2 separate regions of the Homo sapiens genome follow, and region 2 is linked to region 1. The links come from fine-mapping of genetic effects on gene expression. Tissue or cell type: sun-exposed skin. Region 1 holds a variant in brackets; the other region holds the start of a gene. All regions are shown on one strand. Distances are between the middles of the regions.

Evidence for each region. PIP is the estimated chance that this variant, and not a neighbour inherited with it, causes the effect.
Region 2: it holds the start of DRGX, and the variant in region 1 is fine-mapped to the expression of DRGX in sun-exposed skin (GTEx, PIP 0.94).

Annotation. Positions count from the first base shown.
Region 1 is chr10:49,325,733-49,333,909 of GRCh38, reverse strand. C10orf71 (chromosome 10 open reading frame 71) reads right to left here. Exons shown (of 3, transcript NM_001135196.2): 3 at 6,418-8,177. The coding sequence ends at 7,057. Among named protein-coding and RNA genes, the nearest start is that of C10orf71, 31 kb to the right of the region's middle. The variant A/G (reference allele first, on the strand shown) is at 4,942.
Region 2 is chr10:49,392,844-49,401,020 of GRCh38, reverse strand. It overlaps DRGX (dorsal root ganglia homeobox), which reads left to right and starts at 4,932. Exons shown (of 7, transcript NM_001276451.2): 1 at 4,932-5,086; 2 at 5,500-5,614. The coding sequence starts at 5,581. RefSeq lists a silencer at 2,758-2,917.

The sequences.
Region 1 (8,177 bases):
AATAGAAGTGGGAGCAGTGAAGAGATGCCAGCAACAGTCCTGTGAGGGATGATGGTGGGTGCAGATGGATGATGGACTGATAAATACCTGGAGGTATAATTGACAGGTTTGGGGCCTAACTGAATTGGGGGCAAGAGATTGGGAGCAGGTGGGATGGCAACCAGGACTATGGCTTGGACCACCAGGCAGTGTACAATTTCTCTACACCCTCGCCAACACTTGCTATTTTCCATTTTCTTTTTGATAGTAGCCATCCATTGGGTATAAGGTGGTATCTTATTGTGGTTTTGATTTACATTTCCCTAATGATTAGTGATGTGGAGCATTGGTCTAAAGGTTTCAATCAAGAGGTATCCGCCTTTTGGGAAACCAGCACATTGGACAGTGGAGATGTGGTAACTGTGTGTGGGTCAGAACAGATGGGGGCGCCCACTGAGATCAACTTGCCCTGTGCATGGAGATGTAGTAACTGTGTGTGAGTCAGGACAGATGGGGGGTGGGGGCACTGCGATCACCTTGCCCTGTGCAGGGGTCACTCCTCACACAAGTACATGAAGACTACAAGTGCAAGAAAGCAGCAACGAGGTCTCCACTTCTGTCAGCACTGGCTGGCAGTCTCTGCTAGAAGCCAACTGTTCGATTAACTATTGACTTGGCCTGCTGACTTTTTCAGGCTACATCAGTGAGGAGGAATGGGCTGGTAAAAGCACGGGAATGCCAAAGGAGACTGGTGACGTATATGGCCTTTGTAAATGGGAAAGAGGACCACACGAGCCAAAGGTTTCCAAATTCAGAGGAAAATAGAAGAATGATCACGAATGACAGGAAGGCAGGTGCTGACAATGTTCTCATGAAGGGGCCTAAGGGAGGGCTCTGAAGCTCAGGAAGGATGGCCACAAGCGGTGGGAGTTGGGGCTGGGACCCAGGAGCAGGACTGATGCCAGACAAGGACCCAGGGAAATGGCATCCATGTGACAGTGCCCAGAGCAAGCTGAGGCTCGAGAAAAATTCTGAGACAGTGCAAAGACTTAAAAACTAAACCACAGTTTGGCAAATGATGAGCACAAGAAGGTTAACTCCCTGTTTGGGGATAGTGGTTAGTGGAGCACCTTCATCCTCGGACATCTACTTGCGTAGGTCAGAGCCCCAGGCTTCACCCAGTTTAAAGTGTTACCCTAAAGTGTGGTGCGTTGACATGCTGAATACTTTGAACTGAAGAAGCAGCCCCAGAACCAAGGTCCCTCTGACCTTCTCTAGACCCTGTCCCACACCTCTTTGCCTCTCCCGAAGGGCAAGGAGGGGCTTTCTTGACTAAGGGAAGTTCCTCCAGAAGGAATGCAGTTGTCTTGGACTCCCTTCCCTAGCTTGTCAAACAGAGATGAACTTACAGGAAAGAAGGCTTGGAAAGACGACTGGAGTGGATACCACACCCGGGACCCAGGGGAACTTTGCTCTAGGCCATTGTCTGTTCTTTGGACCCATTTATCTTCCCTAAAAAATCATTTACTCTTCCTCAGAATTGCAACCCCCAACTCCCTCTCCTCTACAAAGAGGATATTTAAGTTTCAACCATCTGGTTCTTCTTAGAGTTGCACACTTCGTGCAACTCCCCTGGGCTTGCATGTTAATAAATTTGTAGGCCTTTTCTCTGGTTAATCTGTCTATTGTCAGTTTATCTCAGCAGATTCAATTATGGAACCTTCAGAGGGAAAGTTTGAACTTTCCTTCAAAGGGAAGTCTTTATTTCTAACAATGCCCCTCCTCCCTTCTGTGGAAGAGTAGCCTCCTGATAGAGCTTTGGGGCACACCTGGAGGAGGAGAGGAAGGTGTGGCAGCAGGAAGCAGGCCAGGTGGCTCTGCGCAGGGCTGGAGGCTGCACTGGGTGGCCCTCAAGGGCTGTCATACCTTTCCCCATTCACCGCTTCCACATGAAGAAAGTAGTGCCTCTGAGTTCTTCTTGCCCCAGGTCCTACCTCCACATAACCTTCCACAGGAGGGTGTTTCCCCTGAGCAGAACTCTGGGCCTGGCAGCTCCTGGCCAGTATGTGGGGCCCAGATGTGGAACTGTGCTCTGGAGTGGCATTTGTGAGACTGGTTTAACCAGAAACTCCCGGGAATTTGCACCTCTGCATTGACTCTTTCCCACACTTGGAGAATCTGATGAGGTGAATTGGAAATAGGGCTGGGATGAATAACAAGTGTTAACAAGTGCACAGATGATTCTGAGGCCCAGGCAGGCTGGAGCATTCTGCTAGAAGCCAGCAGCTAAGGGAGGAGCCCACCCATCCACCTGGTGGAAGGGAAGACCCCTCTGCTCAGGCGGCTCTGTGAGGTGACACTGAGGAAGCCTAAACAAGACTCTGGTGGTGACAAGCTCAGGGATGTGGCTCCGAGTTTGCTCCACTCACTTTGGACTTCACATCTGAATGATTTGGAAGACCTGTACAAACAGGTGTGTTCAACTTCATGGTGTATCTAGGCCAAAATGTTTCCTACATGCACAGAGTTCAGGTTTTGCCACAGAGCTCCCCTTTTGTATGCAAATGTTTTCCATCATGTGCCTATGGCCACTCCTTGTTGAGACCTTGCATCCTTGCCGGTGGCATACTGGAGCCCCAAAAGTAGCCTGGGGTCCCAAAAGATAGTTAGGTCCCTTCTGATACCTGAATCCATCCTTGTCTTAGGAAAGGGGTCATCAGCTTCCATTGTACATTTCCAGTGGCAGGGAGCTCAGTTATCCCTAGCAGTTGACGTAATGTCAAGACGATCCTAGTGGCTGGATGTCGTGGCTCACGCCTGTAATCCCAGCACTTAGGGTGGCCAATGTGGGTGGATCACTTGAGGTCAGGAGTTCGAGACCAGCCTGGCAACATGGCAAAACCTCGTCACTACTAAAAATACAAAAATTAGCCAGGTGCGGTAGTGCGCACTTGTAATCTCAACTACTCAGGAAGCTGAGGCAGGAGAATTGCTTGAATCCGGGAGGCAGAGGTAGCAGTGAGCTGAGATCGAGCCACTGCACTCCAGCCTGGGCAACAGAGTGAGACTCTGTCTCAAATAAAAAAAAAAAAAAAGATGATGCTCGTCCTCAGAGATGCCTTTCTCACATTGAGTGTCAATCATCTCCCTGCAACTCCCCCACCTAGATGTGCTGCTCTCTTCCTTTGCACAAGACATTGCTGTGGAGACATGAAGACATCCAGTGCACCTCCCCAAAATTTATACAGGCTAAGCAGAGACTGACAGCACTTAGAATTCAATGCACAAATGGATCAACCACCCAGGGAAGCTTGTGAAGATGGAGATAGGGATTCTGGACTTCTCACAAGCCCCTGGTGATGTGGAGGCTGCTGCTGCAGGGACCGCACTTACGAAGTACTGGTTGAGTATTAAAGAGTCCACCTAGAAGTAAGAGGGGCCCAAGACCCTGGCATGGCCCCTCACTTAGTGGCTCTGTGACCGTGGGCAGTTACATCCCATCTTGGCACCTTTGTTTCCTTTACAGTAAAATGAGGCTAATGAGGGCCTCTCTCAAGGGCTTGCTGGGAGGACCAAGTCCAGGCTCAAGCTCCCCACTCATGGGCCAGCGCATGGTACATGTTTGACAATGTGAGCCCTTGGTCATGTTTAGTTGAACAACCCGGGACCTTCAACTGTTTCCTGGAGGTGCTCCACCTCCATGTCCTCTCCCCAGGAGACATTTAGAGGGGTCATACTCATAGAAAAGGGCCAGGGTACTACACAGAAGATGCAGACAACATCTGTAATTTCCACAAACAACATGTTGTCATAAATCTCACCACTGTCCTACTAAACACAATGGCAGAAATAGTGGTTTTGCTGGGCAACCCCTGTGAGTGAAATATCAATTCAGAAGCTGAAAGACCTATCAACCAAGGTCTATCCTGTGAGGCTACACTGGTTCAGCTTTTGTGCTGATTAGAAATGCTGATGAACAGTTAGCTAAATTAATATGCTTTGATATAGCAAGACAAATCTATTAGTATTTAATCAATGTCATCTTTGATAGATTAAAGCTGGGGAAATTCTGAATTTTTTCATAAATTAATGGACAGCTTTGTGTTTCTTGACTTGGCTCAGGTGCCAACCCCTGAAGCCAGAGCAAGTTAGGTGTTCCTCAGAACAACCTATTAAATTACGTAACATGTGGGATTGTAATTATCTTTCTTCTCTGTTAGATTTTAACTCCTTGAGTGCAGAGACCAGATCTTATTGTCATGGTACCATCAGCGCCCATCAAAGTGCCTGGCACAGTGCAAATGTTTGTAAAAGGGAGGGAGGAAAGAAGAAAGGAAGAGAGAGAAGGAGAGAGGGAGGGAAACAAGGAAGGGAGAAAGAAGGAGGGCGTGAGGAAGGAAGAAGGCATACATGACCTCCCTCAGGAGCAAATGGAAAGAGGAAAACATCACTGGCTAGTGAGTTGGGCTTCACTGGATGGAGACTCTCTGCTTGTGTTCCCTGGAGGCATTCTGTGCTTCAGGAAGACAGGCCCAGTGCTGTAAGGGAGTGAGGCGTCCTTCTAGCTGACTTGCTGGGAGCAAGACTTTATGTGTTTAGTTCTACCCACAGCCTTGCCAATATTGGTTCTAAGGAAGAAGATCGCTTCCCCAAAATAAGTTCCCCAAAGTAATATTTTCTCCTGTGGGGACATAGTTACTATAACCGTGGTTCTTATTGAACAGATGGACTCTTCCTTCGTTAGACAATTCTTTTCCTTGGACCCTGAGAATTGCAAAATGAGATATTCCTTCTCATGTTTTAGTGAGATGAAAACAAAGTGGAGAGGATGCTTGAGGTGATTTGGAGGCAGGCCAAAATGCAGCTTTGTTCTTGTCGCTTGCACCCAGTGAGCGACTCATGGGAACCAGATTTTGGGATAGTGATCTGCTTGCACTCCTGGCTGGTTGCGTGGCTGGCAAC[A/G]GGTGTGGCCAAATTGAATGGCATTGGTTGGGAGGAAAGGAGGGGGCGTTGTGTGGTATTTTCACAATGAAAATCAGGTGTGGCTGCACTTGTTGGGAAAACAAAAAGGTATAAAATCTTGAATCCAAATCAAAGCCCCTGTATTTGTGTGAGTCTGGGACTTGGTTTACTGAATGCCTCCCCATCCTCCCAGTGTGGAAATGGCGCCTTTGCCAACAGGACAAGGACAATGCATCTTGCATGGTCCCCTGGGCCCTGGGCAGCATAGTCCTGGCAGCTGCTGAGGTTTCTAAACAAAGAGGGAGGCACGTTTTGCCCCTGTGTTTCCAGTAGAACAAGAATTAAGAGGCTTCTGTAGAAGCCGTGGCATGGAAACCTATCAATACCCTGGGTGCTGGTTTCCTTCCTAGCCGGCTGCCTGCAAGAGGGCACCTGTTCTGAAGATCGAGCAGGGTCCCCTCCCCAACCATGGAAATACAGGAAAATCTTGGTTTCCTTCAAGGGAAATTCCAGGCACTTAGCTAGCCCTAAGAAGCCAATGAACAACTTGATAAGCAGGAAGGTAATAATAACCTAAAACAACAGCGAAGGAAGCCAGAGTCCTGGGGTGTTTTGTTCCCTCTGGAAATTAAAAAGAACATCTCAACTTCTGACTCCGAGTTGTTTTTCAGAAACCCAGACCCCCACCAAACGGATCCACTGGCACAGAGACCTCAGAGAAGAGGGAGCTGAGGACTGAACTCTGAGCACGGCTCTTTGTTCTATATTTCTTCCTGGGGGGCCTGGGGGAAGTCCCACCCACAAGCCAGAGCTAACATTCCTTTCTGCTAACCCAAATTTTAAAACAAAGCTTCTCTTCCTTAACCAATTGCAATTCAGAAAATGTTTGACTCCACCCTATGACCCGTAAGTCCCTGGTTCAAGATATCCTGCCTTTTTAGGCCGAACCAATGTGTACCCTCCATGTGTTGATTTACAATTTCACCTGTAACTTTGGCTTTCCTGAACATTTCCCTTGCCATTAAAAATCCATGCTTGCAAGCCACGGGGGAGGTTGGGTTTTAAGCGTGAGCTGCCTGATTCCCCTTGCTTGGTGCCCTGCAAATAAACACCCTCCTTTCTCCCACTGCAAACCTCAGTGTGGATTTTGGCTTTACTGTGCTGGGCCAGTGGATCCGTTTCATTAGGTAAAACTCTCAAACTCTTCAGTTAATCCCAACACTTCCCTCCAAATCCCCAAAGGTCAGGAACTGATGGGGGGTGAGGGTGTGAACACACTTTCTTTTTGAGTGGAGGGCACAGGTACTGGTTACTAAATCAGGGCAGTCAGGACCCACTGGAGGGCCTGGCCCTGAGAAGGCATGGACAGGTGTTGAAGGGACAAGGTGGGACGCCAGACTCAGACTGTGGTAGACAGGGAGGTGGCTCTGTCAGCCCTGACCCCTACTGCCCACAGAAGGAAGACAGGAGTCCAGGAAGAGAACCGTATCTGCAAACTTGTTTCACTTTTTAAAAAGTGGGCCTTTTCTTGATCAGAAAATAGCTTTCAGAGGCAAGTTTCTCCCTGTGAAGGAAACCCATTCTGTGCAAATGATCATTTCTGCAAAATTGCCCTGGGCTGGTCCTTAGCCAGTCTGCCTGAGTTGACCTGAATGCCTGCTGAGTCTGAGCTGGGGGCCTTAGGGGTTTGCTCATCAAGGAGCTTACAAGTGAGTGGGTGGGTGTGGGTACAGAGGGACACTTGGGACCAGGCGGTGCCCTTGCCACACCCACCTAATTTGCAGGGCGAGGGAAGAGCAGGGTGGGCCAGGAGAGGGAGGAAGGGAGGGAGGGAGAAGGGCTGGAGTAGAGTGCGCCTGGGAACTGGCACGGAGGGGACCGGGCCAAGCAAGCAGTGCCCCTCCATCAGAGGAGAGCCAGGGAGCCCTTTGGGTGAGGTCGTCTTGGGATCCCTACTGCCTTCTGGACTTTATGGATCTAAAAAGGCTAAGTATGTGTTGATGATCGTGTGTGTGTGTGTGTGTGTGTGTGTGTGTGTGTGTGTTGCTTGTTTTGGGGGAGGGGGAAGTAAGCTCCTCTGGGTTCATCTGGGGGTGGGGGACAGCCTGCAGTAACTCAAGAAATGCCTTCTGTGGCAAAGTCCTCTAGGTCATCAGTGGAGATGATGCCCAGGCCTGGAGCTTCTACACCCTCCTCTCCTGGGCTCTGGGGAGGACCATGAGGGCGCTGGCCTGCAGAGTGCGGGGTGCAGTCACCGTGAGGCCCTGGGTCCAGCTGTAGTCCAGACTCGTGGACACTCTGGGTCCTGGCGCGGGCCGCGGAGGCACGAGGGCCCTGCCTGAGGAAGGTGGGCGCGGAGAGCTGAGAGGAGCAGCGCAGCGGCATCAAGGCCGTCACGGGCACTGGCTGGAAGCCGGGGTACAGCACATAGGGAGCGGCCAGGGCGTCCGGTGGGGGCGGCTCTGGGGAGGCCCCCTCGGAGGACGGGATGGAGACCTTGACATACTTGCCCGTCTCTGGGTCATAGAAGGTCTTGATTTTCACCTGGAGTGGCAAGTCGAAGACAAAGTACTCCCCGGACTGCGGATCCTGGAGGACCTTCTGGGTGGCGGGGTACGCGGGCAGGGGTGTGAGGGACTGGGGGCCCCCGGGCCGCCTCCCGACAGGCTCCGAGAAGCCGGACACGGAGTGGCGGTGCACGGGAGGGGGCAGGGAACGGACCACGGGGAAATTGTGTCGGGGCCTCTCTCTGGGGCACAGCGGCCTTTGCTGTGTCTGCTCCAAGTCCTCCGGGCAGGGCTTTCCCTCCTGTGACTCGCCATGCTTCTCCTGAGCCTGATCCGTCTTCCTCCTCTTACTTGCCAGCTTCTTTGCCCGCCGCAGGGCTTTCTCTGTTTTGGGTGGGACTGCAGGTGGCTTGCTTGCTGTCCTCTCTAGCTGTGCAGGAAGCTCAAGTCTCCCAGAGGTGCCTGCTGGGCTGGTGGCCACATCCAGCAATGAACCTCTTGGAGAGAGGGTCCGGAGGTCTTCTGCCGACAGCTCAAGTAGGGGGTCAGAGCCGCCCTCCCACACGAGGGCGTGGGTCAGGTCCTCCCTCCGGGTGACCCTGGCAGGACTGGAGCTGGCCCAGGGGCTGGCTTGATTAGGCTCCTCGGGAAGCAGCTCTGGTCCTCCAGGGGCCTGGGAAGACTCCTCCCAAATGTTGCTGGCAGCAGGGGAGCAGGCACTGCTCTCCC
Region 2 (8,177 bases), 67 kb before region 1:
ACTAGAGGCATGTGCCACCATGCCCAGCTAATTTTTGTGTTTTTATTAGAGACAGGGTTTCACCATGTTGGCCAGGATGGTCTCGATCTCTTGACCTTGTGATCTGCCCGCCTCGGCCTCCCTAAGTGTTGGGATTACAGCCGTGAGCCACCGCACACGGCTGGCACTGTCTTTTAATCCTCCCTCCAGCACTTGATGTGGCATTGTTGTCCCATGTCACACAATGAGAGAGGGATGTCCTGAGAGAGTAAGTGACCTGCTCAAGCTCACTGGTCTCCTGAGGACCGAAGCCTGCTTGAATGGAGGCAGGGGCACAGACTCTGCAGGTGGTGGGCCTTCCTCCTGGGCTGTGCTCTCTTTCCTTGTGAGAGTTAGGAGGCCATGGGCAACCCTCCAAGCTCTGCAGCAAACACAGGGCCAAAGGTTGAAGCTGAGCTCTGAGATCCCTGGGAACCACATGGGAATATACTTTGTCCTGTGGTCACTGGACAAGAACAGGTGAAGTTATTGGAAGTTGGCTTGCATTTGAGCAGCTACTATGTTTTATATGGCAGTAAAACTAGTGAATTATAGGGAATTTCCAGGATGATAAAATGCATATCTATCCCTTGTTGTGTATATATATTTTCTGTTCCTAAGTCCCCGGGAAATCTGGAATTTCCATTAACTGCTATGTCCTTCACATATTCTCTCATGTTTAGCTTAGCTAAGCTAACTTTTTTGGCAATTTCCAAAACTACAATATAACGATAGATTTGCCGACAAGTAGAGAATACGCCATATTCACACTGAGATATATCCACCGGGGATTATGCTAGAGAGCCTTTAAAACATTTGTAAAAATATCAAACCTGGGCCCTTCCAAAACATATAATTAGGAATTCAGTGTGGTTTTTTCCTCCCTGATAATTTAAGTATTTTACCTGCTTTACCCTCTTGCTATGGGTTTAAGCCATGTGTACTGAAGTCATTTCTGCTAAGGAAAGTTTTAAAAGGGAGGTTGTGAAAATCCTTTCTGAGCACAATTAAGATGTCAAATCCAACACATATTTTTGTATTTGGGCTCAAAAGATGAGGACAGAGGTGTCTCCAAATATTTTCCCAATTTTCCTAAAACAAGGCAAACAGTAAGAAATGAATACTATGTATGGTATTTAAGACCCAACTCGGAGCCTTCAAACCCCTACATTTTCTAAGGATTTGGAATTCTTTTCAGGAATCAATTTAAAATGATTCATAATTCAACTGAAAACAATTGAGGGCTTAGATAGATGCTCGCATTTCCAGCTTTTTATTGCTGCTCTTAGTGTTTCTGAGATGACAGTTTTCCTTTCATAGAACCAGCTTAAAATTAGAAAAATCAAACACCCATTAGAGAAAGCAGATTTACTCTGCTATTAATTGATATAGAGATGTAAAACTTCCATCACCTGGGCAGAAGCCTAGCGCATCCCTGCAGACAGTTGCAGTGGCTAGAACCTGGGGGGTCAGCAGCCCACTCACTGGGCCTGAGCTGGAGCTGTCAGCCTTTGGGAGCCAAGCCTCGAATTTTCAGCACTAAGACATGCGGCTCTGGGGGAGCTGCATCTGTAACAACATCTGCACGCCAGTCTTCAGGCGTGTTACTGTCTTCCCATTTTATTTTTAAAAACATGAACAACTTTGAAAGTTGAACTCCCCACCCTGAGCTGGCTTCTCTCTTCCCTATGGGACAGGAGGCAAAGTAGCACACCCTATGTAGCAACCAGGAAATGATTCTCGGGAATGCAGATGCTGTGGCTGCGGGTATGAGATGCGGAGAGAAGGGGCACTGAGGACCCAGGATTGTCTCCCTACAGAGGCGGGAGGCAGGCTAGGTGAGGGCGGGGAGCGGGGGAGGGGGTGGGGAGGACTGTGAATCTGCTGAAATATGACCCCGCGGTTTTAACTTTAAATAAGCATTTCTGTCCTAGTGGAAGCCCCTCTAATGTCTCCTGCAGCTTTGATTTTGGAACACGTCACATTCCTCATTAAAGCAATCACTGTTAAAACATAAAGCAACACAGGATTTATTTCTTCATTAAACTGATGATCCGTATATGAAGCCAATTAACATTATGAGTCTGGTGAACATCAAGTGTAAAGAGGTTAGAGAAAATTAAAAGCAGTCACCTTGGTCTTTAGATAAAGAAAGTACACTTTTAGGTTGTAAATTATCAGAGTGTCCAAGCGAGACAGATCGGCGAATTTGGTTAATTGGAAAATACATTTTACCGCACAAAAATTAAGGAAAAATAACCTTTTCGTTACTAACGCCCTTTTTTAGGGGGAGGGGGACCGTAGCGAACACCTATTAGTCACCTTCTCCCGGGTGTCGAGACATTCGGAAAAAAAGGGGGCTGGCGTCATCAAAGTTTGGTGCAGCCTTTCGTTTCTAAGGTTGTTTGGTTGTTTGTTTACTCGCTGTTTTGCCAACGGGAAGGAGCCCAGCCTAGCGGCTCCGGGAGAGGAGCGCCGGGCGAGGCGAGGCCGAGGGTCCCAAGCCGGCTTAGAGCCCCCGCGAGGTGGGTGTGTTGAGGGAGCTCGGCTGGTTATCTAGTCAGTGAGGCGGCCGGACTCTCCTCGGGGGCCGCGAGATGGTTTCCGGCTGCAGCGGCCGGGTAGGAGCGGCGCGTGGTACTGCGGAGAAGGGAGTTTTGTCTCTGTTGCCAGCGCTGAGCGCATGTCCGGAGTAACTTTCGCAGGTTTGGACTGGGAGAGGATTGGGGTCGGTCCCCGGACGCCTGGGGTCCGGCCGGGCGGATCCCACCCCTGAGCAGCGAGGGGCCCCGGCTGGGCCCCCGGTACGGCTTCTTTCTCCGCAGCAGCCGGGGGTGGGTGGGGGTGCGGAAACCGGCGCCGCTGTCCAGGGTTCTGACCTGCCGGGTTGCTCGGCGAGCGCGCCGTCCTCAGACCGCGCAGGTCTGAGCCTGTCTCATCCGCGCCGGATGAGCCTGTCTCGTCCCGGGGTCATCTCTGGGCCTTAATAGGAACTTGCCTCGGTCGATGTCAGGGATGGGGAACTGAGACTGGCGTTTGGACCTCATTGGTTTCTGGGGCCAACACTGCACCCCGGGCTGGGCTGCTGCCGCTGAGGGTTCCCGCACACACCCCCAGGTGCGCCTGAGCATCTTGGCCGAGGCGGCCCAGAAGCTGTCCGCACCTCACTTCACGGCCACCGGGTTCCCAAAGCGCACAGGCAGGGAACTGCTGCCTAGGGCAGGAGGGAACCCGAGGGGACTTTCGGCAGACCTAGGCGGCAAGAGGAGCCTCGGGCTCTTGTCAAGAGCTCCAGAGAGCAGGGGCCCTCTGAGGGAGACAGGGAGAGAGACAGCGCGCGCGAGCCAGTCTCTTGACCTGGGCTAAGGGAGGATCAGCTCTAGGGGCTCCCAGCCCTCTTGGCATGACGTAGGAAAGGCCCTCGGCTGCCCTGCCGGCCCCTGCCTGCCACCTCACCCGCCTTCGGGACCTGCTAGCCGCTCCTCCCGGGCCGGCTGCCTGGACTCTCGGAGTCGGTGGCCCTGGCGGAAATGGCGCCCCGAGCTCTCTCCGCTCTGAAACGAGCGGAAGTTTCCTGTGATTCTTTCCCCGAGGCAGAGCAGACTCTGCTCTGGAGCGACTGAGCCCAGGAAGGGCCGCTTCACTGGAATAGATCCTGACTTGCCTCGACCGGAGCGGGACTGGTCTTCCTCCCGGCTGTTTTCGGAGGGGCGTCAACGGCGGCCGGGACCCAGCGCTCTGTCCTGCAGCTCGATGCTCCTTGCCCAGCGCTGGTGTCCAGCGGCGGGCCTGCCAGGCCTTTTGTTTCCAAAGCGCTGCGTCTTTAAGATCAAGGCTGTATCCCGGGCCGTGCAGGGACCCGACCCACCACCTCGCCAAGGCTCCCTAACGCAGCATTAGAATGTTTATAAAATATTCAATTTATGTAGTCTGTCCAAGAAGCCATCGTCCCAAAATAAAATCAGCAGTCTAGACGGAGCACAGACACCAGAACTTATCAACAGTTGTCTGACTTGCATCTTCTGATGCATCTTGAGTGGGTCATAATACCAACTTTATTTTCAGTGGTGCATAAATTAATTACACGCATTTAATAACCAAAATATCATTATATTCCCCCTTTAATATCATAAAGGCTTTCCGCCAGGGAAGCACTTAATAGTGCAGGGGGCCGTAACGGGCTATTATCCTGGTGTAATGCTATTACAGAACCAATTATGCGCCATTAGACTTGCTTTTTTTGCAGTTTATGTGATTTGATCCAATCCCGCGCCCCTGACTTGAAAATTTCAGCCCGGTACTTTAGAGTTTAATTTTCACCCAGGCAGAGAGAAGGGCGGTCTCTCTCCGTTGAGTGTCTGCCTCGGATGCATTTTAAAAGTAATTGCAAAGGGTCCCACCGCATATCATTTGCATCGAGAAGCGAACATAAATTCAGGGACCCCTTGCTGAGAACAAAATCAAACTTTCCTTTTGTACGATCGTTTGGAAAGGGAAGCCGTGTGCAAAGAGTCCCCCCAAAACCCATCCGGCGGCGACAATTAGCAGCGCTTTGCCAATTTGCAGCCCGGGAGTCACCAGGCCTTTGATAAGGGCAGCCCAAACCAGGCTCTCTCGGAGAAAGGTTTGCCTCTGAGGGGACATGAGGTGGGGGGTGGGGCCTAGTGTGTTTTCGGAAAATGTATGTTTTTGGGGGTGATGGTGGTGGTGGTTGTATCGTTCTCTTTTAAAAGAGGAAAAAGCATTCCTGATGTTTGCTGAGAAATGACGGATTTTTTTTTTAACACCACGTGGGCCATTTGTAAGGCCCAATAGACCTATCCAAGTTACTCGCTGTAGACAGCGCTGGAAATAATCAGATTAAGGCCAATTATGCGTGAGATTATAAAGGCGAGTGCTGAGCGGCGGCGCGCGCTGCAGACAGACAGCAAGACATCTGGCCACTTCCCGAGTCACTTCTTTGGTCCTGCGGGCGCCAGCCGCGCCGAGCCCCGCCCGCCGCCAGCCGAGCAGGGCTTGCGGATCGGAGGCGGTCACGCTCCGACCTCCTCGACCGCCGCCCGCCGAGGTATGCTCGGCTCCTGACCCACTCGCCGGGCCCCGAGCGCCGGGCCTTGGGGCTCGGCTGCCTTCCTGGCCTGAGCTGCAGCTCGCAGATGGCCTTGCGCGCTAGCCGGACCTGGCTGCGGTGGCCCGGGTGCAGGGCTTCTGGCTGGGACCCCAGAGAGCCAGAAACTACGCTGCGGGGTTTGGTGCTGGGGCCAGGGTGAGGGCACGGCCGTCCGGGAGGTGGACACACCCGAAGGACTGCCCTGTGGGGTTGCTGCTTGCGACGGGGCTGCCGCCTTCCCTCCTGTCCCCCGCAGTGAGATGAGGGCGTTGGGAGGGACTTTCCAGGAGGGGAGCGCCGGGTGCGCCCTAGGGCTGGGCGGGAGCGCTGGCAGAGGGAGACTTGAAGCTCTATCGCTGTTTGCTTTGCAGCCAGGCAGGAGCAACGCGCGCGGGTCCGTTCTGCTGCCACCCTCCCAGGTCTCGGCCGTCCAGCCGATCTGACAGCCGGCGATGTTTTATTTCCACTGCCCGCCACAGCTAGAGGGTAAGTAAGCGCTGCGCCCCAGGGTCTCCATGAAGCCAGAGCCGGCCAGAAAGGGCCGGAGCGGCAGCAGGGCTGGTGGGTGGCTGGGTCCCCGCCCTGCGGGGGGCGCAGCCGCCTGCCGGTGAGTAGGGGCCTCCCTGGACCCCTCCCTACACCCCACTCCAGGCCCGCTCCAGCTCCCCGCCCCGTCGCCACCTGCCTCCCAGCTCCCTCCCCGCCTGGGCCAGGACGCCCCGGGCTAGGCGTGCCGCGGGGACCGGCCGAATCCTCCCAGCACAGATGCTGGTGTCACGCCTCTAATTGGGGCTCCGCAACCCAGGGGGCCGCATCAATCTTTCACGGTGCTTCTGCAAACATCCCAGAAAGCAAAGGCGAGTGGACCCGCCGCGTCCTGGCCCAGATCACGAGCTGCACGAGCCTACAAGGGCCCGTCGCTGGGCTGCTCTCACTGGGGCCGCTGGCGAGAACACTGCAGGGGCCTCTTCCGCCCTGGATTCTGGGCAGCTCAATTCCCTTCCCGGCCTCCTGGCCGTCCCTGGAACCAGGTGGCCCTGCCCACCACCTGCCCGGACTGACCTAGCATGGCTCCTTCTCTGTGACTCACTAACCCTAAATGTCGACCACTCCCCACTCCCCAGGCCAGAATTTCCATCTTTGAGTGTCTCCAGGCCTGAGAAGAAATTTCCCCTCAGGATCCCCAGTCTGGCTTCTGCACCCAGTTGTTAGTGGGGGCGTGGGTTGGTGAGAAGGGGACAGTTGGGACCTCAGCATGCCCCTGCTCAGGACCCGAGGGATCCAAGGATGGGGTCTTCACATCAGGGGGCCAATTAGTAGCCATCAGGTGAGCCAATGCCACACTGTGGGCTTTAATGGGGCCTTCTGCAGAGCAGCAGTCTCAGCACTGGGGTATTGGGACTTTTGTAACCGTCGGACTGGCATTTGGCAACCTACTCGTTTGATTTATTATTGTGGTGGGAGAATTTGGGAAGCCAAGTAGTTGTGGGAGACAAGGGGCAGGGTATATGTTGTGAGGCGCTAGGAGACCTGAGACTTCAGGTGATGCTTGTCAGTCTTGCTGCAGGCTGCCCTGAGCAGTGGCTGAGCCTCAGAAAGTTTGTTTTTGTTTTTCTCATAAAAGCTCTTAAGAGTCCAATAGGATTTTCTAAAGGAGGCTAATGAGGACCAGTGTTTAAGCCCTGCTAGCTCTGTCAGCATTCCTAGGAAGGGAAGGCCACACATTTGCCTGCATTTCACATTTTATCCCCAAGTTCCCATGCAGGGTGGGTTTTATGGAAGGGTGGGAGACGTGCATCCCCTGACAGTGTACCCTAGGGGATGAGGGAGACTTTCTGTATGTTAAGGGTGCCTTCTCTGTGCATCTGAACCAGGGGTCTGGACTAATTGCCAGCCAGTGTCCCACCCTTCTGGTCAAAGTGGGTAAGGCAGAAGTTTGGGCATTTGGCAGGTAGGGGACGTCATGAATGTCTGTCTGCGGGGTGGACTGCAGCAGTGAGTTAGGGAGAGTCCTGGCCTGGCCTGCGGTGACCCCAGCTCTCAGCCCAGCTCAGCTGGCTTACTGTGCTCCCCACACCCTGGGCACATCCCACCTCAGTGCTGACTCTGTGATATAACCAGAAGAAAAGGAGATGGGTCTTTAAGAGCCTTTCATCCCTTTGTAGATGTGATTCTATGCCAGTTTTGCAGAAAGGAGTAATTTAGTTTAGTTTAGTGTTGCTGGGTGAAAGGGATCTCCCGCAAATGGAAAAGTTGAGAACAGACCCTTGGAATATGACATAATTATAGCCTATCATCTTTTTTATTTTAATTTTTTGTTAATCTAGATAGGCATAAGGGAGAAAAGAAAGAAAGGCTCATAATCTTACTTCTCAGATAATTTTGCTGATGTTACATTAAAAAGTACTACTGGCACCTGCCTGAGAAGTTTGAATACAACAGAAACTTATACATTGAAAAGCAAAATCCTCCTTTTCCACCTCTTTTCCTAAAAGTATCTGCTATTTTTTTTGTGATTCCTTCAAGAAAAACATGATTTAATTCTCATTTATGTATTTTTAAAATATGTGTTTTGCCTTATTTGCACTGAAATTATATTGCTACATCATTCTGTACTTTGCTTTTTTTACTTTGTAATATATCTTGGAGATTTGTTCATGCCAATGCATATAGATCTACTGATTTCTTTTAAACTGCTGTGTAGTATTCCATTGTATGTTGTGAAGAAAGCATCTGCTGATGGGCATTTTGGTTGTTTTCATTTTTTTTCAACTACAGTATTTCCAGAAGCACTTTTTTTTTCTATTTTGGCACACATTACAAATATATTTATAGATTAAATACCTGTATGTGTACTTACATTTTTGATGGATGTTGTCAAATTACCTTCTAATAAGGCTGTACCCAATTTGTACTCCTACAAATGGTGAATAAGCCTGCACATCTTATGATACTCATATCTGTACTGGGTGTCTTTATGCACCTCATTTTTTCTTCAAAATGTTGAAAATAATATTCCATTGTTCTGTTGTGTTTGGTTGAATTATCC